Homo sapiens: one gene and its partners. The protein of the gene in region 1 interacts with the protein of each later gene in a pairwise test. Each region holds a gene or a part of one and is shown in the gene's direction. Other genes may lie near its edges. The genes, in order: PSMA3, PWWP2B, CCL28, ZNF366, RBFOX2, NPPB and RBM42.

Region 1 (3,662 bases):
ATAGCAAGGTTTTAGAAGACCCTCCAAAAAGTAAGGTATGTAACTCAGTGCATAGTATTAGATAAAGCTATACTCTGCTACTGTACTTAATTTGATACTTTTTTTTTTTTGAGATGGAGTCTCACTCTGTCGTCCAGACTGGAGGGCAGTGGCACGATCTTGGCTCACTGCAACCTCCGCCTCCCGTGTTCAAGCAATTCTCCTGCATCAGCCTCTCAAGTAGCTGGGATTACAGGCGCCCACCACCACACCTGGCTAATTTTTGTATTTTTAGTAGAGACAGGCTTTACCATCTTGGCCAGGCTGGTCTTGAACTCCTGACCTTGTGATCCACCCACCTTGGCCTCCCAAAGTGCTGGGATTACAGATGTGAACCACCGCACCTGGCCTCTTGATACTTTTTATGTTACTTTAATATGTTGCATGACAGTGCCTCCTTCTTTGCTGTAATTTGTAAGGTACTACAATGTGAAGGCCAGGTTATGTGGCATATATGCCATTATAAAATGGACAAGGAGCTTAAAAAGACTACTGCCAAGAAGCTATAGGTTGAAGAGACCACTAATAATTGCAAGCACATAAATTAGTTTTTTTTTTTTTATTTTTTTGAAACAGAGTCTCACTCTGTTGCCCAGGCTGGAGTGCAGTGTCGTGATCTCAGCTCACTGCAGCCCCTACCTCCTGGGTTCAAGCAAGTCTCCTGCCTCAGTTTCCCGAGTAGTTGGGACTACAGGCCTATGGCCACCTCACCTGGCTAATTTTTGTATTTTTAGTAGAGACGTGGGTTCACCATGTTGGCCAGGATGGTCTCGAACTCCTGACCTCATGATCCACCCGCCTCTGCCTCCCCAAAGTGCTAGGATTACAGGCACGAGCCACCATGTCCAGCCAATTAGTTGGTTTTAAATATATTTAAGTTAATGGACAAAATATTCTAAAAGGGCACAGTTAATGACGCCTCTTCCTAGTGAATCCGTGTTCTTTATGAGGTATCTTTTATAGTTGTATCTTTTTTTTTTTCTGAGATGGAGTCTCGCTCTACTGTAGCCCAGGATGGAGTGCAGTAGTGTGATCTTGGCTCACTGCAACCCCTGCCTCCCGGGTTCAAGGAATTCTCCTGCCTTAGCCTCCTGAGTAGCTGAGATTACAGGCGCCCACCACCACACCTGGCTGATTTTTGTTTCTTAGTAGAGACAGGGTTTCACCATGTTGGCCAGGCTAGTCTCGAACTGACCTCAAGTGATCCATCCGCCTTGGTCTCCCAAAGTGTTGGGATTACAGGTGTGAGCCACTGTGCCCAGCCAAGTTATATCTCTAAAGCAATGTGCAAAAATAAACTGAACTTGGGTTGATTAGGTATATTCAACATTTGTCGGGAGAGTAGATGTTTCATTTTATTTCAGTCCCTGTGTAATTTGTCTTCTCTAATGTTAAATACTATGTAGAATGTGTCTGTGTAATTTTATAGATACTTTTATTATGGATGGACATTCTAATTTGTACTGACTTTGGGTCTGTGAACTACTTCAATGTTTGGAGGTTACCAAAATCTTACCTTTCCCTTTTCTATTCTAGAATTTACATAGTACATGACGAAGTTAAGGATAAAGCTTTTGAACTAGAACTCAGCTGGGTTGGTGAATGTAAGTTATTTTTGTACATTTATTTGCCTTAGGAATGATCTGTACCACAGCTAATTTACAACTGAGTGTCCTTTCTAATATAATGAAAGCTAAAGCAAATTTACTAGGTTGTCTAATGAAGGGAAAGTTCTGCTTAATAATTGACTTAAGTTGTGAACACGTTATTTTTTGAAACATCCATTTCATGGTTTTAAGATACTATGCTATAAATTAATGCTCAGGATTTATAAATAGCATAATTTACTTTCATTTCCATAAGAACTTAATATGTAGGCACATATAATCTCATGTAGAAGCAGCACACAAAAATATTCGAGTATTACTCATAGTACAACTTTGCAACCTTAGGTGAGTCAGATATGTGGATTGGGTAGATCCTATGGTATACTGCAAGTTACAATATGGTACTCAATTTAAAATTCATTTACACATGTGGCTTAATTTACAGTAACTAATGGAAGACATGAAATTGTTCCAAAAGATATAAGAGAAGAAGCAGAGAAATATGCTAAGGTAAGCCACAGCACAAAAACTTCTCTTGGCCAGGTACAGTCAGGGAATCACTTAGCCCAGGAGTTTGAGACCAGCCTGAGCAGCACAGCAAGACCCCCATCCCTAATTTAAAAAAAAAAAAATTCTCTAACCAAAATTATGTGTTGAATAATATAAATAGACTGGGGTGGTTTCTATGAAATAACACTGAGAGTTCAGTTGAACTAAAGATAGAAATTTTCTAGGTTATCTCTAGTGGGTAAAGTTGCCTTGGTTCCAAAAAAAAAAAACTTGGGAGGTTTAGACTGCAAAGAGTTTTTTAGGACTTTTAATACTTTAAATATTTGTTCTTTTTTTTTTTTTTTTTTTTGAGACGGAGTCTTGCTCTGTCACCCAGGCTGGAGGGCAGTGGCACCATCTCTGCTCACTGCAACCTCTGCCTCCAGGGTTCAAGCGATCCTCCTGCCTCCGCCTCCCAAGTAGCTGGGATTACAGGAACATGCCACCATACCTGGCTACTTTTGTATTTTTGGCTTCACCAATAATACAGAGACGGGTTTTCACCAGGCTAGTTTCAAACTCTTGAACTCACGTGATCTGCCTACTTTGGCCCCCGTAAAGTGCTGGGATTACAGGCATGAACACTGCACCAGGCCTCTTAAGTATATATTCTATCAAAGATACAGTCATTGCATGTTAGAGCAACATTTGCTTAATTAACTTTGCTTGGGTATCTTATTCTGAAACTGTTCATTCAGTTACAAGTAGAGGAATTTAACCACTTAATTCAGGTTGTTGTAGCTTAACTTGCCCACAGGTGTGGGATATAACAATTTTAAAAATCAATTTTAAACACCTGTTTTCTCTTAACAGGAATCTCTGAAGGAAGAAGATGAATCAGATGATGATAATATGTAACATTTACTCCAGCATCTATTGTATTTTAAATTTCTACTCCAGTCCAATGTAACTATTTAGCCCTGGATTATACATACTGTCCAATTTTCATTAAATTTTTGTCTTATAACTATTGAAGTTTGGTTAATATCTGCTTTACAAAATTGGTGGGGGTAAATGAGGACATTTACTCAGTATTAAAATATAGATTTATGACTACTGAAAAATTCCCTGGTTAAAATGCTGCAGAATTAATTCCAAGACTGTAGATTAATTCAAAGCCCCATCTTCATCACTCAACTAGAATTTACAGATCATATTCTCCTGGGCTTTTGTACAAAAAGCACCTACCAACTTAGTGGACAAATAACTGATACGGTTTCCCACTTTCATATGAAGTAACTGGTGGTCATCAGTCACTGTTAATCTTTAGATGTGATACAGATGACAGATGTTTCAGTTTTGGATAATTTTTCAAAAACTGACCCTTCTCAAAAAAGACCCTTCAATACATGAGTCAAGGATGTTTTTGCTTTTTTCCTTTATTGTGGTGAGGGGCGGATTTAAGGATCAATAAAGTCCCTATTCTGTCACTAAAAAAATTTCTTGATCTCTAAAGATTAAAATAAA
Region 2 (4,226 bases), on another chromosome or scaffold:
GGGAGCCCCAGGCCACACAGAGGAGGACAGACACTCACTGGGCTTCCAGGCCTCCTCTGGGACTGTCCCCGGCCAGAACTCTGGCTCATTCGGCCTCGGTCCCTACCCCTGTTCTAGCCGGACGGTCAGGTGTCCCAGGCCCCGCGGGCTCCCTCACTCCGCCCTGGCTCCTCTCTGAGGCTCCCACTGCCGCGCGGCCGCCGGAGGGCGAGGTCGACAGGCGCCAGCGACCCGACGGTCCCCAGTGGCACCAGGGGCGGTGGTCCTCAATTCCCAGGCTGGGAGGAGCCCTGCCCGGCGGCGCTGGGTCGCCAGGACAACTACGCGGTCCCCCGCCCCGCCTCCAGGCCTCGTCAGGCGCTGCAAGTCCGGCTCAGAAGCCCGGCCCGGGGCCAAGGTCACCGCAGCAGGCCGGGCCCCTGCGTTCTGAGCCGGGTGCGGACGTGCTGGTGCTCGGGGAAGTCGGGGGCTTTGACGCCTGAAGGCGCGGGAGCCGGGCGCCTGGGGGAAGGGGGTCCGGCGCCGTCACCTCCCACTCCTCGCCCGCGGGTCGGGGAGCCCCTGCCGCGGGGGAAGGAGGCTGTTTCCTTTGTAAACTGGCGGAGGCGCGCCTGGCCCCTGGGCCCGGCAACCCGAAGAGACACGCCCGAGACCTCCGGAGGGAGTTAACCCCCCGGGCCCCGGTGCCGGCCACCCCCAGGCGCGCAGGGTGGCCCTGAGCCGGGCGCGCGCCCGCTTGTCGCCCCGAGAGGCGCCGAGCCCAGTGGGGCGACCCAGTGTCCCGCCCCCCACGCGGCGAGGGCGACACTAGGCCGCTGCCCCCGGGCGCCCCGCGTCCCCTCCGCCTGCCCCGGCTTCCTGCGCGCGCCGCCCGGGACTTCCTCGCCGCAGTGCCCGGGGCCACCAGAGCCCAGCGCGGGGCGCTGCCGGGACACGCGGGCGGCCGACCCCAGGCGGGAGGATCCGGGCCACCGGGGAGGGAGGGAGGGCGCAGGGCTGGGCCCGGAGGGGGAGGGGGGCCCGGGACCGGCCCCAGGCAGGGGAGCGGGGGGATGGGGTCCCGGGGCTCCGGCCGCGGCGGGTGTCCCCCCCGCCGCCCCCGGGCTCGTGGCTCTCGGGTCCTCCCGAGCCAGGGGACACTCCCGGCCAGCGTGGGCCGCGAGCCCGGGCGCAGCCCCCTCTCCAGCCCGGGGGTCCGCACCGCGCGTCCGGCCGACCTCTGCGGGCGGGCGCGGCTTCTCCCGGGACGCGGCGGCGGCGGGCGGGGTCCCCGGGAGCGGAGCCCGCGGCCGCGCGCCCCCGGCCCGGCTCGGCTCGGCTGTGGCGGCCGCCCCAGCGGAGCTTTGTGACGTCAGGCGGCCGCGGGGCGGCGTCACGCGCGGGGCTGACCCGGCGGCGGCGGCGGCGGCGGCGGCGGCGGCGGGGCGGGGGCGGCCTGGGACGCGGCGGGAGCATGGAGCCGCGCGCCGGCTGCCGGCTGCCGGTGCGGGTGGAGCAGGTCGTCAACGGCGCGCTGGTGGTCACGGTGAGCTGCGGCGAGCGGAGCTTCGCGGGGATCCTGCTGGACTGCACGAAAAAGTGAGCGGGGGCGCGGGCCGGGACACCCCCGGGGTCCCCACGCGACACCCGCCTCCGCCGCCCGGAGACCCGGGACCCGCCTCCGGGTTGGGGGTGGCGTGGCCCCGGCGCCCGCTTTCGGTTTCTGCCGAGCCTGAGTTTCGGGGCGCGCGAGCGCGGCCGCCACTCGGGGGGGCAAAAGTGGTTCTCAAAGTCGTCGCGACTTTTCGGGGCGGGCGCCGGGCCGGGGCGGGCCGGGGCGGGGGGCGCGGGGCCGGGGTCCCGGAACTCCACACATCTGCCATAATTAATGCACTTTTCTTTGTTCAGAGCCACTGTTGAATTCGACTGTTGGCAGAATTGTCGTTAAAGCAGGGGAGGGTCAGATGCGCCGTGGCCTTGCCCTGGCAGTTCCTCACAGGTGGGGGTGCCCTGTCGAAGGCCACGGGCCCCTGGCTGCTGGGAGTGACTCCGCGGCTGAGGTTTGGATTCGGGGAGAGCAGTTGCGCCCAGCTGTGCGATTTAAGAACAGTTTCAGGCCAGGGAGCCCTGAGTCATGGGGGCGTGAAGAGGTACAAGCTGTGGGAGCCGTGGGCACATCCCCCGGGAGCCCTGGCTTCCTGGGTGGGGGGCGCAGGGCAGGGCGGGGCGGTTCCTCCTGAGAGGCACCTGTGCACGGGCTGCAGGGACCCATGCGGTGCAGATGAGCCTCCTGGACACCGCGTCACATGGCAGGGAGCTGTCGCTGCCAGATCAATGATTAGGCATGAATCAGGCTGTGGCCTCGCTGCGCTCCTGCAGGGCTTTCTTTTGAAACTGGGAGCAGGGAAAGGCTCCTCTTGTAAAGGCCCAACTTTTTCCATCCGTGGAGCCCAGATTTTTGCCTGGTGACATGAATTAGCAGAGAGGACCGTGTTCCTTCCACAATTATTTCGCAGACGTTATCTCTTCATTAGATGTGCCAGAAGCCATTTATCCACAAGTCACGTGATTTAACATATGGCTCCCGTGTGGTTCCTGCCCGCTCCGTGTGGGCTACCGCTGGGAGTGCACGGGCAGGATGGAGGGACACTCGGGGGGTGAGAATCGCCACCTGGGAGCTGCCATCCCCTCCACCATCGGCCTCAGCTTCCTCTGGCGGGCAGGGTTGGGCTTGGTCCTGGTCAGCAGGGCCGCACCCCTGCCAGACCTGCACCACCTTGCCTGGCCTTTCCTCCCTGAAGAGGGGCACGAGCGGCAGTGGGTTGCCCCATTTCCCAGGTTCCTTGACTCGGGACAAGGGAGGCTGAGAATATCTGCAGTGGCCTCGGGCTCTCCTCCCTGAGGCCCATGGCTAACCTGGTTTGCAAATCTACACCACCGCCTCCCCTTCATGGAAAAAACCAGGCCCGATGGGACCCCCGGCGTGGGAACTGGCAGCTGTAGGATGCATGGGTGTCAACCCTGCCTGCCACGTTCAGCTGTAACCAGAGCCGCCCACGGAGCCGGGCGCTGGGCCTCTGCGGGCACAGCCACTTAGCAGCCAACCTTGCTGCCTTGGGCTGGCCCCCTTGTCCTTGTGGGGAATCTGAAGGTAGAGCAGGCTCCCCGACCCCCAGTCCTGAGGCTTGTCCTGGAAGGACCCCTGCCCCCTCCCTCATCTCCCCTGTGCCTGAGTCTGTCCGGCTGTTCTCCTCTCCCCCAGCCCCAGTCCTGAGGCTTGTCCTGGAAGGACCCCCGCCCCCTCCCTCATCTCCCCTGAGCCTGAGTCTCCAGCCGGTTCTCTGCCCTTGTATTCCGAGTCCCAGGGCTCCTGTTTCCAGCCCTGCCTCGGACCGCAGGGTGCTGACCTGCCTTCCCCAGGTGCCAGTTTCTCATCAGGGCGTGGTGCCCGCCCTTATCCCCTGCATGTGACAGTGGAGGCCCAGTCCCCAAGTGTGGGTGCTGACTCACAGGGAAGAGCTGCTGGGAGCCCTATGACAGGTGTCCGCCCACCTCAGGGAACCTGTGGGTCCCAGCACAACCGGCGCTGTTGAGCGCAGGCGGCGGGCAGCCAGGCACCTGTTCAGAGCAATCCCACGGGAATGGCGGCCCCGCTCACACAGGCGCCGGGATGCAGGGCTGAGGTGGGCCCAGCAGCCAGCGTTTGTTGTCGGCCGGTTTGGGAGATGGCATTCTCTCCCTTGCTTGCAAAGCAGAGGGGAGAGGGGCTTGGCAGGTGGGTGGAATTGCCTGGCTTGTGCCACAAGGGCCATGTGATCTGAAGCAAGATTCTCTTGAGTGTCAGCCTGCGTGTACATCTGGGTGAGTTCACTGCACACCTACTGTGTGCCAGGAAGTGGGCTGAGCCCGGAGCAGGCGGCCTCCAGTGATCTTCCCCCAGTCTGGGCCAATGTGGTGGTGGTTCCTTCCAGAGCATCGATGACACAAGCCTTGTCCTGACCTGCGTTGTTTTGTGGGTGATTTGGGGACATGCTTCTGGTTGAGGATCTTGGGTGGGGTGGCCCTGGCTGAGGGGTGGCCTGAGGACAGACGAGGCTCCGAGTGCGGAAGGGCTGGCCTGCCCCACCAGAGCCTCCTGGCTCCATCTCTGAGCTGGTATTTATCGGCCTCCCCCAGTTGTGGGTTGCCTATGGTTCCAGACACAGACTGCTGGAAAGGTCAGGGGACTGTCCTCTGTGAACCACACC
Region 3 (3,500 bases), on another chromosome or scaffold:
TTTTCTAGCTTATTTGCATAGAGGTGTTTATAGTATTCTCTGATGGTAGTTTGTATTTCTGTGGGATTGGTGGTGATATTCTCCTTATCATTTTTTATTGCGTCTATTTGATTCTTGTCTCTTTTCTTATTTATTAGTCTTGCTAGTGGTCTATCAATTTTGTTGATCTTTTCAAAAAACCAGCTCCTGGATTCATTGATTTTTTGAATGGTTTTTTGTTTGTCTATCTCCTCCAGTTCTGCTCTGATCTTAGTTATTTCTAGACTCCTGTAGGCTTTTGAATGTGTTTGCTCTTGCTTCTCTAGTTCTTTTAATTGTGATGTTAGGGTGTCAATTTTAGATCTTTCCTGCTTTCTCTTGTTCACATGTAGTGCTATAAATTTCCCCCTACACACTGCTTAAAATGTGTCCCAGAGATTCTGGTATGTTATGTCTTTGTTCTCATTGGTTTCAAAGAACATCTTTATTTCTGCCTTCATTTTGTTATGTACCCAGTAGTCATTCATGAGCAGGTTGTTCAGTTTCCATGTAGTTAAGCAGTTTTGAGTGAGTTTCTTAATCCTGAGTTCTAGTTTGATTGCATGTGGTCTGAGAGACAGTTTGTTATAATTTCTGTTCTTTTACATTTGCAGAGCAGTGCTTTACTTCCAACTATTTTGGAATAAGTGCAATGTGATGCTAAGAAGAACGTATATTCTGTTGATTTGGGGTGGAGAGTTCTGTAGATGTCTATTAGGTCTGCTTGGTGCACATCTGTGTTCAATTCCTGGATATCTTTGTTAACTTTCTGTCTTGTTGATTTGTCTAATGTTGACAGTGGGGTGTTAAAGTCTCCCATTATTGTGTGGGAGTCTAAGTCTCTTTGTAGGTCTCTAAGAGCTTGCTTTATGAATCTGGGTGCTCCTGTATTGGGTGCATATGTATTTAGGATAGTTAGCTCTTCTTGTTGAATTGATACCTTTACCGTTATGTAATGGCCTTCTTTGTCTCTTTTGATCTTTGTTGGTTTAAAGTCTGTCTTATCAGAGACTAGGATTGCAACCCTGTTTTTTTTGTTTTCCATTTGCTTGGTAGATCTTCCTTCATCCCTTTATTTTGAGCCTGTGTGTGTCCCTGCACTTGAGATGGGTCTCCTGAATGCAGCGCACACTGATGGGTCTTGACTCTTTATCCAGTTTGCCAGTCTGTGTCTTTTAATTGGAGCATTTAGCCCAATTACATTTAAGGTTAATATTGTTATGTGTGATTTTCATCCTGTCATTATGATGCTAGCTGGTTATTTTGCCCGTTAGTTGATGCAGTTTCTTCCTAGCATCGATGGTCTTTACAATTTGGCATGTTTTTGCAGTGGCTGGTACTGGTTCTTTCTTTCCATGTTTAGTGCTCCCTTCAGGAGCTCTTGTAAGACAGGCCTGGTGGTGACAAAATCTCTCAGCATTTGCTTGTCTGTAAAGGGGTTTATTTCTCCTTCACTTATGAAGCTTAGTTTGGGTGGATATGAGATTCTGAGTTGAAAATTCTTTTCTTTAAGAATGTTGAATATTGGCCCCTACTCTCTTCTGGCTTGTAGAGTTTCTGCTGAGGGATCAGCTGTTAGTCTGATGGGCTTCCCTTTGTGGGTAACCCGACCTTTCTCTCTGGCTGCCCTTAACATTTTTTCCTTCATTTCAACTTTGGTGAATCTGACAATTATGTGTCTCAGAGTTGCTCTTCTTGAGGAGTATTTTGTGGCATTCTCTGTATTTCCTGAATTTGAATGTTGGCCTGCCTTGCTAGGTTGGGGAAGTTCTCCTGGATGATATCCTGAAGAGTGTTTTCCAACTTGGTTCCATTCTCCCCGTCACTTTCAGATACACCAATCAGACGTAGATTTGGTCTTTTCACATAGTCCCATATTTCTTGGAGGCTTTGTTCATTTCTTTTTATTCTTTTTTCTCTAAACTTCTCTTCTCACTTCATTTCATTCATTTCATCTTCCATCACCATACCCTTCCTTCCAGTTGGTCGAATCGGCTACTGAGGCTTCTGCATTCGTCACGTAGTTCTCGTGCTGTGGTTTTCAGCTCCATCAGGTCCTTTAAGGACTTCTCTGCATTGGTTATTATAGTTAGCCATTCATCTAATCTTTTTTCAAGGTTTTTAACTTCTTTGCCATGGGTTCGAACTTCCTCCTTTAGCTCGGAGTAGTTTGATCATCTGAAGCCTTCTTCTCTCAACTTGTCAAAGTCATTTTCCATCCAGCTTTGTTCCATTGCTGGTGAGGAGCTGCGTTCCTTTGGAGGAGGAAAGGCACTCTGATTTTTAGATTTGTCAGTTTTTCTGCTCTGTTTTTTCTCCATTTTTGTGGTTTTGTCTACCTTTGGTCTTTGATGATGGTGACGTACAGATGGGGTTTTGGTGTGGATGTCCTTTCTGTTTGTTAGTTTTCCTTCTGACAGTCAGGACCCTCAGCTGCAGGTCTGTTGGAGTTTGCTGGAGGTCCACTCCAGACCCTGTTTGCCTGGATATCACCAGCGGAGGCTGCAGAACAGCAAATATTGCAGAATGGCAAATGTTGCTGCCTGATCCTTCCTCTGCAAGCTTCATCTCAGAGGGTCACCCGGCTGTATGAGGTGTCAGTCGGCCCCTACTGGGAGGAGTCTCCCAGTTAGGCTACTCAGGGGTCAGGGACCCACTTGAGGATGCAATCTGTCCATTCTCAGATCTCAAACTCCATGCTGGTAGAACCACTACTCTCTTCAAAGCTGCCAGATAGGGACGTTTAAGTCTGCAGAAGTTTCTGCTGCCTTTTGTTCAACTATGCCCTGTTCCCAGAGGTGGAGTCTACAGAGGCAGGCAGGCCTCCTTGAGCTGCAGTGGGCTCCACCCAGTTCGAGCTTCCTGGCCATTTTGTTTACCTATTCAAGCCTCAGCAATGGCAGACGCCCTTCCCCCAGCCTCACTGCCGCCTTGCTGTTCAATCTCAGACCGCTGTGCTAGCAGTGAGCGAGGCTCTGTGGGTGTGGGACCCTCCAAGCCAGGCATGGGATATAATCTTCTGGTGTGCCGTTTGCTAAGACCATTGGAAAAGCGCAGTATTAGGGTGGGAGTGTCCCGATTTTCCAGGTACTGTCTGTCACGGCTTCCCTTGGCTAGGAAAGGGAATTCCCCGACCCCTTGCACTTCCTGGGTGAGACAACGCCCTGCCCTGCTTCAGCTCACGCTCCATGGACTGCACCCACTGTCTGACAAGCCACAGTGAGATGGTCCCAGTACCTCAGTTGGAAATGCAGAAATCACCCGTTTTCTGTGTTGCTCACGCTGGGAGCTGTAGACTGGAGCTGTTCCTATTCGGCCATCTTGGAACCGGCACACACCAATTTTTTAGAACAGAAACAGGATCACAATCTACATATTGTCTTAACACATATTTTAATCATAGATAACAGTATATCTATTCAACACAAAAAGTTAATTCTGAAAATCTGCATCTTCATCTTACATAAAACATTTAAACTTCC
Region 4 (3,500 bases), on another chromosome or scaffold:
GCTGTGTCAGCAGGGGACATGTCAGGCACCACAGGAGTCACCAAGCCTGCCCCTTACTTTGACACCTGTCTGAAAGGAGAGACCCATGTGCGGCTTTATTTCACATAATAAAGGAATATTTCATTCCAGCTTGCTTCAGGTTTAAGAGTGGAATGTGTACATTGCCAGGATGACTTTATAACATTGAGCTACTCAATATGCTTTTTAAAATCATGTTTATGTCATTCACTCCCTATGCCTTAGTAGCACACCTTACTCAGAGTGGATACTCAGAAACGATTAGATCTGAGTTAAGCATTAACATCCCTTCTCCTATGAGGCTTTGAATATCCTCATTTTCCAGCAGCAAAGGCCCAAGCAAGGGAGTAGCAGTGAAAATTGGTTTCCTTACACAAAGAAAAGACCCTAAAAGTCACTTTCCAATCACCATTAGTAGATGTAATTACAACTCAGATTGAAAAGCTGCAGCAGAATGGGTCTAGTGCTCACTCCTTCAGTGAGTACCTATGTAACTTGAGAATGTCATTTCATTTATCTGGACTTTGGTACCCTGATCTTAAATGGGGACAATGGCCAGATGAGTTCTCAGGTTTCTTCCCAAACTAGTCCACTTCCCTTGCTACCATCACCCCTTGTGGTTTTGTGGCTGGATTTACACTGGAGCCCAATTTGATTCAGCCCTAGGGTCACCCCAAGAGGCCAGTGCTATCCATATTGATAACTGGGTTTGCAAGGAGAAAGAAAAGCGATATTTTGAACAGCCCTAGGATAAATGAGGGTCCATATTAAGCAAGTACTACTCTTCATAAATTAGTACTGATAAATAGCCATAATCCTTAAGGAAAAAGAGAATTTTAAACAAAACCAAACCAAAACACACAAGTTTCTTTCTCTTTAAAGGAAAATTGCCAAGGATGCAGAAGGAAATGAAGATGATCAAAGACGAGGATGTGCATTTCGACTTGGCTGTGAAGAAGACCCCCTCCTTTCCCCACTGCCTGCAGCCAGTGGCTTCTCGGGGAAAGGCTCCCCAAAGACACCCCTTCCCGGAAGCTCTCCGAGGGCCATTTTCCCAGTTTCGGTATGAACCTCCCCCAGGAGACCTAGATGGGTTCCCCGGGGTCTTCGAAGGAGCAGGGTCTAGGAAACGGAAGAGCATGCCCACAAAGATGCCCTATAACCACCCTGCAGAAGAAGTCACCCTCGCCCTCCACTCAGAGGAGAACAAAAACCACGGCCTTCCCAACCTCCCTTTGCTGTTCCCGCAGCCCCCGCGCCCCAAGTATGACTCTCAGATGATCGACCTGTGCAACGTGGGCTTCCAATTCTACCGCAGCCTGGAACACTTTGGGGGCAAGCCCGTCAAGCAGGAACCCATTAAGCCCAGCGCCGTGTGGCCCCAGCCAACGCCCACTCCATTCCTGCCCACGCCCTACCCCTACTACCCCAAAGTCCACCCGGGCCTCATGTTCCCCTTCTTCGTGCCCTCGTCCTCGCCCTTCCCCTTCAGCCGGCACACCTTCCTGCCCAAGCAGCCCCCGGAACCTCTGCTGCCCCGGAAAGCCGAGCCCCAGGAGAGCGAGGAGACCAAGCAGAAGGTGGAGAGGGTGGACGTGAACGTGCAGATCGATGACAGCTACTACGTGGACGTGGGCGGCTCGCAGAAGCGCTGGCAGTGCCCCACCTGCGAGAAGTCCTACACCTCCAAGTACAACCTGGTCACCCACATCCTGGGCCACAGTGGGATCAAGCCGCACGCGTGCACGCACTGCGGGAAGCTCTTCAAGCAGCTCAGCCACCTGCATACCCACATGCTGACCCACCAGGGCACGCGGCCCCACAAGTGCCAGGTGTGCCACAAGGCCTTCACCCAGACCAGCCACCTGAAGCGCCACATGATGCAGCACAGCGAGGTGAAGCCGCACAACTGCCGCGTGTGCGGCCGCGGCTTTGCCTACCCCAGCGAGCTCAAGGCCCACGAAGCCAAGCACGCCAGTGGGCGCGAGAACATCTGTGTGGAGTGCGGCCTCGACTTCCCCACCTTGGCCCAGCTGAAGAGACACCTCACCACGCACCGGGGCCCCATCCAGTACAACTGCTCCGAGTGCGACAAGACCTTCCAGTACCCGAGCCAGCTGCAGAACCACATGATGAAGCACAAGGACATCCGGCCCTACATCTGCTCAGAGTGTGGCATGGAGTTTGTGCAGCCGCACCACCTCAAGCAGCACTCCCTCACCCACAAGGTACTGCGGGGCCTCTGGTGGGGCGGACGGGGCCTTGGGAAGAGGAGCGGGGCCCTGAGCAGAGCACTGGGGAGCAGGACGCCTGTGCCGCTCTGCACCTTACCCCGAGGAGGTGGGCAACCCCGGACAAGCGGTCCCTTGGCCGAGCCCTGAGGTCCTTCCTCACGTTTAAATAAGAGAGAACGATTCTCGACCAAGCCCTTTGCCCCAGCAGCCTTCTAGACTCTAAGGTAGGCCTAGAAATAAATAATGCAGACATTTGCAGAGGAGATGAGGAAGGATGCTCCCTAGCCTCCAAGAATCTTGCAGATTCGGTTTCTAGAAACTTCATCCAAGGCACTAGCATGAGTAAGTCATCAGACCCTAGATCAGCTCTGTGCCTGGGATGTGCCAGGGAGCACCTTCTGGATAATTCTCTTCGTCTTGTACTGTTGAAGCAGTGGAAAACTTTTTGGATTGTTTTCTCCCTCAACTGTGAGACCTGCTTCATATGCAAGTTCTCCAAGGGAAGCAGAGCTTGGCTGAGGCCGGCAGGGCCTATACCTCCCTGCGTTGGACCCGTGCCTAGCTGGGTGAAGTGCCCTGTGGTTTACATTGTAGGAGGCATGAGAAAGCATCCTTCTCTGTTTGGTTTTGTTTGATCTTCTCTGTGCTCAGGTCTTCAAGGGGAAATACAGGCCCAAGAGTCTGAGTTCAGCCCAGTTTGCAACCATAGCCCTGGAGTCATTCAGGCTGAACTAAAACAAGGCCCTAGTGGTGTTCCTGAAATCTTACCCCAGCTAAAGTATGGAACCTGCTCTGAGCCTCCGAGAGGGAGTTTTGCCCCCACTGACTCCCACTCTCACACCCTTAACCTCAAGTGGTTTTCTTGGCAGGAAAGACTTCTAGCAAGCCAGAGTTTCTAAAGCATTCTTTAATTCTGAAAGGTCAGGAGAGGACTTTGCCCAGCCAAGATAATGTTTCTGCTGTGCTATAATACGTTTCACTTCTTAGGTTAGGACAAAACACAGGGTATTTTCTGGCTCTGCCACAGAGATGAAATGTGTGGCTGCCTTGTGGGCTCTGCACAAACAGCTCCTGCCCTACAAAAGGTACCTGTAGATACTATCCAGAGGGGAGTCGCCTGCCAAGTGCAGGAACCATCAACAAAGGACCCAGACTGGGATTCAGCCGTAAAGGGGACCATTCGCTAACTTCAGGGGCTCCTTTATATGTGGGAAAGGAATCAAAAGTGCATTTTAGAGCATATGAAGA
Region 5 (3,500 bases), on another chromosome or scaffold:
TTTTCATAACATATTTTCTAAGAACTAAAGAGAGGGGTTTTTTTTTTTTTCTATCTTTTGAGATGGAGTCTCACTCACTCTGTTGCCCGGGCTAGAGTTTAATGGCAGCGATGTCAGTTCACTGCAATGTCCTCCTCCTGAGTTCAAGCGATTCTCCTGCCTCAGCTTCCAAGATATCTGAGATTAAAGGCATTTGGCACCATGCTTGGCTAATTTTTGTATTTTTAATAGGGATGGAGTTTCACCATGTTGGCCAGGCTGGTATTGAACTCCTGACCTCAAGTGATCTGCCCGCCTCAGCCTCACAAGGTGCTGGGATTACAGAAGTGAGCCACCACACCCAGCCTTTTTTTTTTTTTTTTTTCCCTTAAGAGACGTGGTCTTTCTGTTGCCCAGGCTAGGGTGATGCAATCATGGCTCACTGCAGCCTCCAGCTCCTGGGCTCAAGCAGTCCTCCTTTCTCAGCCTCACAAGTAGCTGGGACTACACATACCACCATGCCCAGCTAATTTTTTAAAGTTTTTCTAGAGACAGGGTCTCTTTGTGTTGGCCAGGCTGATCTTGAACTCCTAGCCGCAGGCAGTCCTCCCATCTCAGCCTCCCAAAGTGCTGGGATTACAAGGGCATGAACCATTATGTCCAATAGCAGGAAAATTTTTATGTAAAGCAATTTATTTTTATTTTTATTATTAATTTCTGTTACAGAATCTTCATTCCTGCCTTTACCAGTTTGCAAGGGCTGCCATAAGAAAGTATTACATAACAATATAGCAATGTATTTTCTTACCATTCTGGAGGCTAGAAGTGCAAGATCAGGGTGTCAGCAGGGTTGGTTTCTTCTGATGTCTTTTTTGTTGGCTTGTAGATGGTCATGCTCTGTGTCTTCACATGGGCCTCCCTCTGTATGTGTCTGTATCCACATTCCCTTTTCTTATAAGGACACCACTCCAATTGGATTAAGGCCCACCCTCATGACATCACTTTAATTACCTTTTTAAAGACCTTATCTTTAAAAACAGTGACATTTTGAGGTACTGAGGGTTAGAACTTCAACATACGGGTTGGAGACTGAGCACAACTCAGTCTATGACTCTGCCCCTTCCCACTGATAACTGTAATCAGTTCATCACTTTTTATCTAGACTGTGGCAGCCCCCCACCCCCAATTCTCTGCCTTTTTTCTTTCACCACTATTGTGTAAAGCAGTTTTTATTACCAAGTAGAAATGATTCTTGGACATTGGAGACAGCTGAATTTTGAAGTTGTTTAACTTTTAAATGGAAGAGAGTTATGAATTTTTGTTTCAAGGTAGGTCACTACCATTCTCTTAAGAGTAACACAGTAATTCAGTGTTTCAGAATATTGGCTTCCCCTTATTGATGATATATTTTTTGTCATTCTCTTTAGTATTAAAAACAATATATTTGTATAGGTTTTATTACAAAAGTAATATATGTTTATTATTGGGGCACAAGGAAACTTTTGGGGGTTTTGGATATATGTGTTGACTATCTTGATTGTGGTGATGATTTCATGAGAATATAAGTGCATATATCAAAACTTACCAAATTGTATACTGTAAATAAATAAGTGCTGTTTATCATATGACAGTTATATCATAATAAAACTGCTTAATTTTTTTGCTGATTTGATGACTAAAGACTTGGACTTACTTTGATGTTAATGTGAATTTTCGTGACAGTTAGTGAGGTTGAGCATTTTTATTAGTTGTTTGTATTTCATTTTCAATGAATTGTTCAGATACACAGTTTGCCTGTTTTTCTCTTGGGATGTGTGTGTGTTTGTGTGTACATGTGTGTCTGTCTTGTCAACTTGGTTAACCCACTCTGGGACTAGTGATAATAACCCAGCATCTCTCTTACCTTTTGCTAATATTTTCTCCTAGTTGATTTTTCTTTTTTGTTTTTCGTATTTTTTAGGGACAGAGTCTCTCTCTGTGGTATAGGCTGTAGTGGCTTGTGGTCCAAAGTGGGCTCTCCACCTACTTTTAATTTAAAGGAAAGATTTTTGCCCCTTTGGCATCTAGTCCACTTAAATATGGTTGTGGGCCTGTCTAGTAACTACACATTAACAAAAGTGAGTGTGTGTGTGTGTGTGTGTGTGTGTGTGTGTGTGTCTGTCCACATACATATATCTATGTGTGTATGTGTAATAATATTTTCTCCAATCCTGGAGCAATAAGCATTCCATTTTACCTATGCAGTGAGAGAATATTCAGAGAATTCCATATACTCACTTTAAAAATAGTTACGTAACAAGGATTCAAAGTCACTTTTTCTTTCTCTTGTTGTTTGTTTTAGGGTAACCAGGAGCCGACAACAACTCCTGACGCAATGGTTCAGCCTTTTACTACCATCCCATTTCCACCACCTCCGCAGAATGGAATTCCCACAGAGTATGGGGTGCCACACACTCAAGACTATGCCGGCCAGACCGGTGAGCATAACCTGACACTCTACGGAAGTACGCAAGCCCACGGGGAGCAGAGCAGCAACTCACCCAGCACACAAAATGGATCTCTTACGGTACGTGGACCATGAGGTGAAAAATGGAAGGATGCATGGCAATCATATAGAAATTGTCGCCTTAATTATACAATTAGAAGACTCTCGGAATTAATTTAGCATTTACACCTGTTCTCATTTACACCTTCTCTCAACAGCATTGTATACATTGTCCTCCCTCCTCCTAGAAATACTTAGTCTCTTGGCTTTTCGAGCTCTCCCAATTTTCCTGCCAAGCACTGGGTGTTCTGCTCCTGCCTCCTTCTCTGTTCAACTTTTAAATGGTGCAGTACTCCATATGTAGGTCCTGGAACCCCTTTTCTTTTTATTTTATATCCTTTCTCTGCATAATTATACTACCAAACTCAAGCAAAACCTAGGAATATTCTTTCTTTCTTTCTTTCATCTGTACATCTAATTGATTAGCAAGTCTTGACAACCATAACTCTAAAACTACTTCGTCTTCTTCTCTACATCTTATTACTCTTCCACCAAATTGCTTGTGTTTGAATCTCAATATGGCCCCTACTAAACTGTGTGACCTTGGACCAGTTATTTAATCTCTCTGCCCTTGGCTCACTCTAAAATGAAGATAATAGTACCTACCTGAAGAGGCTGTTAGGAAATTTAAAAGAATTTATCATCATCACTGCTCTAGTCCAAACCTCATCACTTATTTCCGGTATTACTGTTGCCTAACTTATCTATCCTCCACATAGGACTAAGGTGGTTTTTTTTTTTTTTTAATGCAAATGCCGATTTCCTACTTAACTCTTAATAGTTCCCTAATGCAATTAGAATATAATCTGAACTCCGTACTTGGTTTACTAGTCTCTAGCCCCAGCTTACCTCTTTGACTTCACCTCTTACTACTAACTTGCTAAAGTAAAGGAAATGTCATAAATTAATAATAGGTATATATCTCATACATACCAACATATGGGAAATTGTATTGTCTCTTGCTTTGTTGTCCAGG
Region 6 (3,157 bases), on another chromosome or scaffold:
CCAGGCTGGAGTGCAGTGGCGTGATCTCAGCTCACTGCAACCTCCACCTCCTGGGTTCAAGTGATTCTCCTTCCTCAGCCTCCCGAGTAGCTGGGACTACAGGCGCCTGCCACCATGCCCAGCTAATTTTTGGTAATTTTAGTAGAGACGGGGTTTCACCGTGGTCTCGATCTCCTGACCTCGTGATCCGACCGCCTCGGCCTCTCAAAGTGCTGGGATTACAGGCGTGAACCACCATGCCCAGCCTATCCTTTTGTTTTCCATCCTGTGTTGGCTTGGTGGGGGAGAGGAGGTGTTGACACGTGGAGGACACACATATAAGGCATTCTTGGGTGACTTCGTCATCACTGGACCCTATCTCTCAAAATTCCAGCGAAATCTGCTCTTCCCTTTAAGGAGTGAAAGAAGGGTCAGCATTCCAGAAGTTCCTGGTCATACCCAGGCTTTTAATGAATTGCCACTGGGGAATCAGCATCCCGTTGCTGTAAGGACTATAAGATGGCGGATTGTGAGAGCATAGGGAAAGGTCTCGGAGGTCTCTTGTCCTTGCTCCACGCAGGTCTTTCTGGCCTGAAAATCCCGTTGAAGAGAGCAGCTCTTGAGAGTTTGCTCCAAGTTCCCTCGGGGTGATCAGCACCACGGACAGCGGCCAGGGCGCCCCCGAGGACCCGCAGGCAGGCAGGGTGCACAGCGGCGAGCAGGTGCTGCGCTACGTGCGGGCCAGGGAACTCGCGCGGGGAGGGGAGAGGCGCCGCGGGTGGCGGGGTCTTGGCCGGGGCTGTTTTCGCTGTGAGTCACCCCGTGCTCCCCGCGCTCACGTCGGTCCTCGGAAAGCCGGGGTCCTCCCTGCCTTTTCCAGCAACGGTGGGGTGGGGAGGCAGGAAGAAAGCGCCAACCTAGGACACCTGGACATTTGCAGGAAAGGAAGAAGCGGGAGACGGGGACTTGTCTGTGTCTCCAGCGCGTTCCTGCCCCCCGGCCCGACCCGGCCCATTTCTATACAAGGTCGGCTCTGCCCGGTCTCCACCTCCCACGTCGCAGGCGCGGAGGGGCTCATTCCCGGGCCCTGATCTCAGAGGCCCGGAATGTGGCTGATAAATCAGAGATAACCCTGCATGGCAGGGCAGGCCCGACACTCAGCTCCAGGATAAAAGGCCACGGTGTCCCGAGGAGCCAGGAGGAGCACCCCGCAGGCTGAGGGCAGGTGGGAAGCAAACCCGGACGCATCGCAGCAGCAGCAGCAGCAGCAGAAGCAGCAGCAGCAGCCTCCGCAGTCCCTCCAGAGACATGGATCCCCAGACAGCACCTTCCCGGGCGCTCCTGCTCCTGCTCTTCTTGCATCTGGCTTTCCTGGGAGGTCGTTCCCACCCGCTGGGCAGCCCCGGTTCAGCCTCGGACTTGGAAACGTCCGGGTTACAGGTGAGAGCGGAGGGCAGCTCAGGGGGATTGGACAGCAGCAATGAAAGGGTCCTCACCTGCTGTCCCAAGAGGCCCTCATCTTTCCTTTGGAATTAGTGATAAAGGAATCAGAAAATGGAGAGACTGGGTGCCCTGACCCTGTACCCAAGGCAGTCGGTTCACTTGGGTGCCATGAAGGGCTGGTGAGCCCAGGGGTGGGTCCCTGAGGCTTGGACGCCCCCATTCATTGCAGGAGCAGCGCAACCATTTGCAGGGCAAACTGTCGGAGCTGCAGGTGGAGCAGACATCCCTGGAGCCCCTCCAGGAGAGCCCCCGTCCCACAGGTGTCTGGAAGTCCCGGGAGGTAGCCACCGAGGGCATCCGTGGGCACCGCAAAATGGTCCTCTACACCCTGCGGGCACCACGAAGCCCCAAGATGGTGCAAGGGTCTGGCTGCTTTGGGAGGAAGATGGACCGGATCAGCTCCTCCAGTGGCCTGGGCTGCAAAGGTAAGCACCCCCTGCCACCCCGGCCGCCTTCCCCCATTCCAGTGTGTGACACTGTTAGAGTCACTTTGGGGTTTGTTGTCTCTGGGAACCACACTCTTTGAGAAAAGGTCACCTGGACATCGCTTCCTCTTGTTAACAGCCTTCAGGGCCAAGGGGTGCCTTTGTGGAATTAGTAAATGTGGGCTTATTTCATTACCATGCCCACAATACCTTCTCCCCACCTCCTACTTCTTATCAAAGGGGCAGAATCTCCTTTGGGGGTCTGTTTATCATTTGGCAGCCCCCCAGTGGTGCAGAAAGAGAACCAAACATTTCCTCCTGGTTTCCTCTAAACTGTCTATAGTCTCAAAGGCAGAGAGCAGGATCACCAGAGCAATGATAATCCCCAATTTACAGATGAGGAAACTGAGGCTCAGAGAGTTGCATTAAGCCTCAAACGTCTGATGACTAACAGGGTGGTGGGTGGCACACGATGAGGTAAGCTCAGCCCCTGCCTCCATCTCCCACCCTAACCATCATCACCCTCTCTCTTTCCCTGACAGTGCTGAGGCGGCATTAAGAGGAAGTCCTGGCTGCAGACACCTGCTTCTGATTCCACAAGGGGCTTTTTCCTCAACCCTGTGGCCGCCTTTGAAGTGACTCATTTTTTTAATGTATTTATGTATTTATTTGATTGTTTTATATAAGATGGTTTCTTACCTTTGAGCACAAAATTTCCACGGTGAAATAAAGTCAACATTATAAGCTTTATCTTTTGAAACTGATTTGTCTTGGCGCATTAAAAATAATCCCTCATTTCAAAGAAACCAACCCAACTAAAACCACAAAGCCCTGTGATCTCAAGGCATCTTCATGGTGGGATGAGGATGTGGCCTCAGAGGTAGCAGGCTTTCTTTTCTTTCAGAGTTTTTAATGCTCTGAAATGTTATTGAATATCTCAAGCACTTGAGGCACTTGGGAGAAACTGCTTTTCAAAGCAGGGCAGGATACGTGTGCAACCTGAGGGCACGTATCCAGCCGTTTTCTCCACTCGTCCTTGCTCTGCCTGGAATTCCACCATTAAAGCACTCTCCCTGGGGATTATTGCTTTCAGGTCTCAGCTAAAATGTCAACGACTGGGGGCAGTGTGTGTGGGTGTGGCTCATCTACATTCCCATACCGGGGTGAGCCCTCCATCCTGCCCCAAATATCAGCTTTGAAACTCCAATTCCTGGGGTCATCCTGCAAAGGAGCCTTCAAAACTCCAACCC
Region 7 (3,075 bases), on another chromosome or scaffold:
TAGGACATTACTTCCTTATATGTATGAAAAGGATGCGTGTTCTTACTTGGATGTAAAATTCTGGTATAATCTCGGTTAAACCAAACGTGCTACTTATGTTACCTAAATCCTGTTATACTTATTAATCTGATGATCTCTGAGAAGTTGTAATGTCTCTTACTTTTTAGTATGGTTTTGATCAAAATGCAAATCTGACCTACTTCCCCTGCCCAGCTTCCAACCCTGCTGTGGCTCCCCAGTGCCCTCAGGAGGACACCCATGGCTCAGCCAAGAATGCTGTGCTTTAAGAACAAAAAAGCTCTACTGGGGTGCCTGCTGGCTGCTCAGCCCTTCTCATGACACTCTCTAAGCCCCACTACTTCTATTACAGTTACACTAAACTGAAAAGGGAAAGGTTTTGCTTATAAATATTCTTCCTGCCAATAATATTCCCACTCACCCCTTGCCTAACACTTCATTGCCCCTTGGGTCTCAGCTCACAGGTCCCTTTCTCCAGGAAGCCTTCCCTGGGCCTGGCTGGGTCAGAGGGCTCCCCTCTCTTAGCACTGATCCCACTGCCTGGGCTTCCCTGCTTCCAGCGCTGGTCCCCACTGGCTCTCCTTCTCTAGTGATGTCTCCATTCCCTCCTCCTCTGGACCAGGAGCTCCCTGAGAACCCTGGGTCTGTTGGTGTGTCCCCAGCATTGCCTGCCACAGGGCTGAGCCAGAGGAGCTTCTCAGTGGTAAATTTTCATGGAATGAACCAGGGGAGAGGCCCCCACATCTCCAGGAGGGCTCCCCAGACTCTTCTCCAGGATTTCTTGATGCTGAGAGTGCACACACACACACGCATGCACACACACACCTTGTCCCAAGTGCCCCTGTCCCCCATGACACACACCCCCATCTCTCTCTCCCACAGCTGTGGCCCCCCAGAGGGCCCCTATCCTGCGTCCAGCCTTCGTCCCCCACGTGCTACAGAGAGCAGGTGAGGGGCCAGGGTCATCATCCCTGCCACATAACTCCCCCCAGGCCCTGGAACTCCCCACTAACACCCTGACAGATTCCGCTCTCTCCTCTGCAGCAGCCGGCCCCCGCCCTATGGCCCTACGGCCCCCTCACCAGGCCCTCGTGGGCCCCCCTCTGCCTGGGCCCCCTGGACCACCCATGATGCTGCCACCAATGGCTCGGGCTCCAGGGCCCCCGCTGGGCTCCATGGCTGCACTGAGGCCCCCTCTGGTGAGTGTGAACAGGGAACTAACGGTCAGATGTGCGGTGGACGGGGAGACCATCCATCCTGGCCCAATGGGCTATGTCTGAGTTGGCCTCTCTCCTGACTTTCTGTTTCTCTACCTTCTCACTCTGCCTTTGTCTCTGTCTCTTTCTGCATCTTTCTGTGGCAAAATCTGTTCTCTCCTTTTGTGAAGGGAGTACAGAGAGAAACATGCTATTGGAATATTTCTCTTTTGATTGTTACTGATGTTCTTGTCTGTGGCTGTCTCTCTCTGCCTGTGTTTCTCCTTCTCTGTGTTTGTCTGGCTGGAGACTCTCTGCTTGGGTGTCTCTTGGCTGCTCTCTGGCCCCCAGGCCCTTTCTTTGTTGGATGGAATGGAGATGACAGTAAAGTCTGAGCCTGTGAGCCGGCCCCCCTCATGCTCTCCTCTTACCCACAGGAAGAGCCAGCAGCACCCCGAGAGCTGGGCCTAGGCCTGGGGTTGGGCCTGAAAGAGAAGGAAGAGGCAGTGGTGGCGGCGGCGGCTGGGCTGGAGGAGGCTAGCGCGGCTGTGGCCGTGGGGGCAGGAGGTGCCCCAGCTGGCCCTGCAGTCATTGGGCCCAGCCTGCCGCTGGCCCTGGCCATGCCATTGCCCGAGCCTGAGCCCCTGCCCCTCCCGTTGGAGGTCGTCCGCGGCCTCCTGCCCCCGCTGCGCATTCCTGAACTCCTGTCCCTGCGTCCTCGGCCCCGGCCCCCTCGGCCAGAGCCACCCCCAGGCCTCATGGCTCTTGAGGTAAGCAGGGAGCCTAGCGGTGAAGGGACAGAAGGGACGGGGGGCAGACAGGAGCCCAGGAACTTCCACACAGACAGACCGGACAGCAGGAGGACCTGGGGGAGGGAGGCGGACACATGTGCCCCACATCCAGAAGCACATCCAGCCCTTACTGTGGTGGCAGGAGGGCCGGGGACCAAAGGACAGTGGGAGACCCCAATACCAACCCCTTTGCACCTCTCCCCTTTCCTCTGCAGGTCCCAGAGCCCCTGGGTGAAGACAAGAAGAAGGGGAAGCCAGAGAAATTGAAACGGTGCATTCGCACAGCGGCAGGGAGCAGCTGGGAGGACCCCAGCCTGCTGGAGTGGGATGCAGGTAAGCTGCTGAAGCTCGAGGTCAGGCGTGGCTCGGCCAAGGTCAGACCAGGCTGCTGTCCTTGGGCTGCAGACTGGGAGGGTGAACCCTCTCAGTAGGGTGGGCGCTGTTGTTAGCCCACCTTGGGGAGGGGAGGCTATGGCTCAGGGGCTGGTTCTTCACCTAGCCATGGGCCGGAGCTTGGTGGAGGTGACGGGGACATGGGGCTTTGTAGCCTGTTTTACTCATGAGGTGCCTGGCTTCAGAGAGCATTCTTTTTTTTTCCCAACTCTTAGGATAAAAATTTTTTTTTTTTTTTTTTATGAGACAGAGTACCACTCTGTCGCCCAGGCTGCAGTGCAGTGGCGCAATCTTGGCTCACTGCAGCCTCCGCCCCCCAGGTTCAAGTGATTCTCCTGCCTCAGCCTCCCAAAGTGCTGGGATTACAGGCATGAGCCACTGTACCTGGCCGGGAAAAATTTTAAACACAGATGGCACAGTAAACACCCGTCTACCCACCACCTAGATTCTGCAATTAACATTTTGCTGTGTTCACTTTTTTCCTCTTTGTGTATGTATCTGGTTTCTTTGTTTTTAGCTCAGTCATTTGAAGCAAGTTATAAGTGAATTAATCACTTCTAAATATCTCAGTATTTATCTCCTAAGAAAAGAGATATTTTGGCCAGGCACGGTGGCTCACACCTGTAATCCCAGCACTTTGGGAGGCGGAGGCAGGTGGATCACTTGAGGTCAGGAGT

What was found.
Region 2: the proteins of PSMA3 (region 1) and PWWP2B interact in binary tests that used the Homo sapiens proteins (3 or more experiments, as listed by UniProt).
Region 3: the proteins of PSMA3 (region 1) and CCL28 interact in binary tests that used the Homo sapiens proteins (3 or more experiments, as listed by UniProt).
Region 4: the proteins of PSMA3 (region 1) and ZNF366 interact in binary tests that used the Homo sapiens proteins (3 or more experiments, as listed by UniProt).
Region 5: the proteins of PSMA3 (region 1) and RBFOX2 interact in binary tests that used the Homo sapiens proteins (3 or more experiments, as listed by UniProt).
Region 6: the proteins of PSMA3 (region 1) and NPPB interact in binary tests that used the Homo sapiens proteins (3 or more experiments, as listed by UniProt).
Region 7: the proteins of PSMA3 (region 1) and RBM42 interact in binary tests that used the Homo sapiens proteins (3 or more experiments, as listed by UniProt).

The regions. Positions count from the first base shown.
Region 1 is NC_000014.9:58,268,843-58,272,504, forward strand, and holds the end of PSMA3 (proteasome subunit alpha type-3), read left to right. Parts: intron 1-1,575; coding exon 1,576-1,643; intron 1,644-2,091; coding exon 2,092-2,156; intron 2,157-3,008; coding exon 3,009-3,053; 3' UTR 3,054-3,162; downstream 3,163-3,662. UniProt on the Homo sapiens protein: Component of the 20S core proteasome complex involved in the proteolytic degradation of most intracellular proteins. This complex plays numerous essential roles within the cell by associating with different regulatory particles.
Region 2 is NC_000010.11:132,395,774-132,399,999, forward strand, and holds the start of PWWP2B (PWWP domain-containing protein 2B), read left to right. Parts: upstream 1-1,426; 5' UTR 1,427-1,453; coding exon 1,454-1,578; intron 1,579-1,822; exon of another isoform or gene 1,823-2,129; intron 2,130-2,155; exon of another isoform or gene 2,156-3,662; intron 3,663-4,226. UniProt on the Homo sapiens protein: Chromatin-binding protein that acts as an adapter between distinct nucleosome components (H3K36me3 or H2A.Z) and chromatin-modifying complexes, contributing to the regulation of the levels of histone acetylation at actively transcribed genes.
Region 3 is NC_000005.10:43,402,392-43,405,891, reverse strand, and holds part of CCL28 (C-C motif chemokine 28 isoform a precursor), read left to right. Parts: intron 1-3,500. UniProt on the Homo sapiens protein: Chemotactic activity for resting CD4, CD8 T-cells and eosinophils. Binds to CCR3 and CCR10 and induces calcium mobilization in a dose-dependent manner.
Region 4 is NC_000005.10:72,458,911-72,462,410, reverse strand, and holds part of ZNF366 (zinc finger protein 366), read left to right. Parts: intron 1-900; 5' UTR 901-914; coding exon 915-2,246; intron 2,247-3,500. UniProt on the Homo sapiens protein: Has transcriptional repression activity. Acts as a corepressor of ESR1; the function seems to involve CTBP1 and histone deacetylases.
Region 5 is NC_000022.11:35,808,825-35,812,324, reverse strand, and holds part of RBFOX2 (RNA binding protein fox-1 homolog 2), read left to right. Parts: intron 1-2,320; coding exon 2,321-2,545; intron 2,546-3,500. UniProt on the Homo sapiens protein: RNA-binding protein that regulates alternative splicing events by binding to 5'-UGCAUGU-3' elements. Prevents binding of U2AF2 to the 3'-splice site.
Region 6 is NC_000001.11:11,856,964-11,860,120, reverse strand, and holds NPPB (natriuretic peptides B preproprotein), read left to right. Parts: upstream 1-1,175; 5' UTR 1,176-1,287; coding exon 1,288-1,419; intron 1,420-1,651; coding exon 1,652-1,907; intron 1,908-2,449; coding exon 2,450-2,466; 3' UTR 2,467-2,657; downstream 2,658-3,157.
Region 7 is NC_000019.10:35,632,036-35,635,110, forward strand, and holds part of RBM42 (RNA-binding protein 42), read left to right. Parts: intron 1-900; coding exon 901-966; intron 967-1,041; coding exon 1,042-1,217; intron 1,218-1,651; coding exon 1,652-1,984; intron 1,985-2,220; coding exon 2,221-2,338; intron 2,339-3,075. UniProt on the Homo sapiens protein: Binds (via the RRM domain) to the 3'-untranslated region (UTR) of CDKN1A mRNA.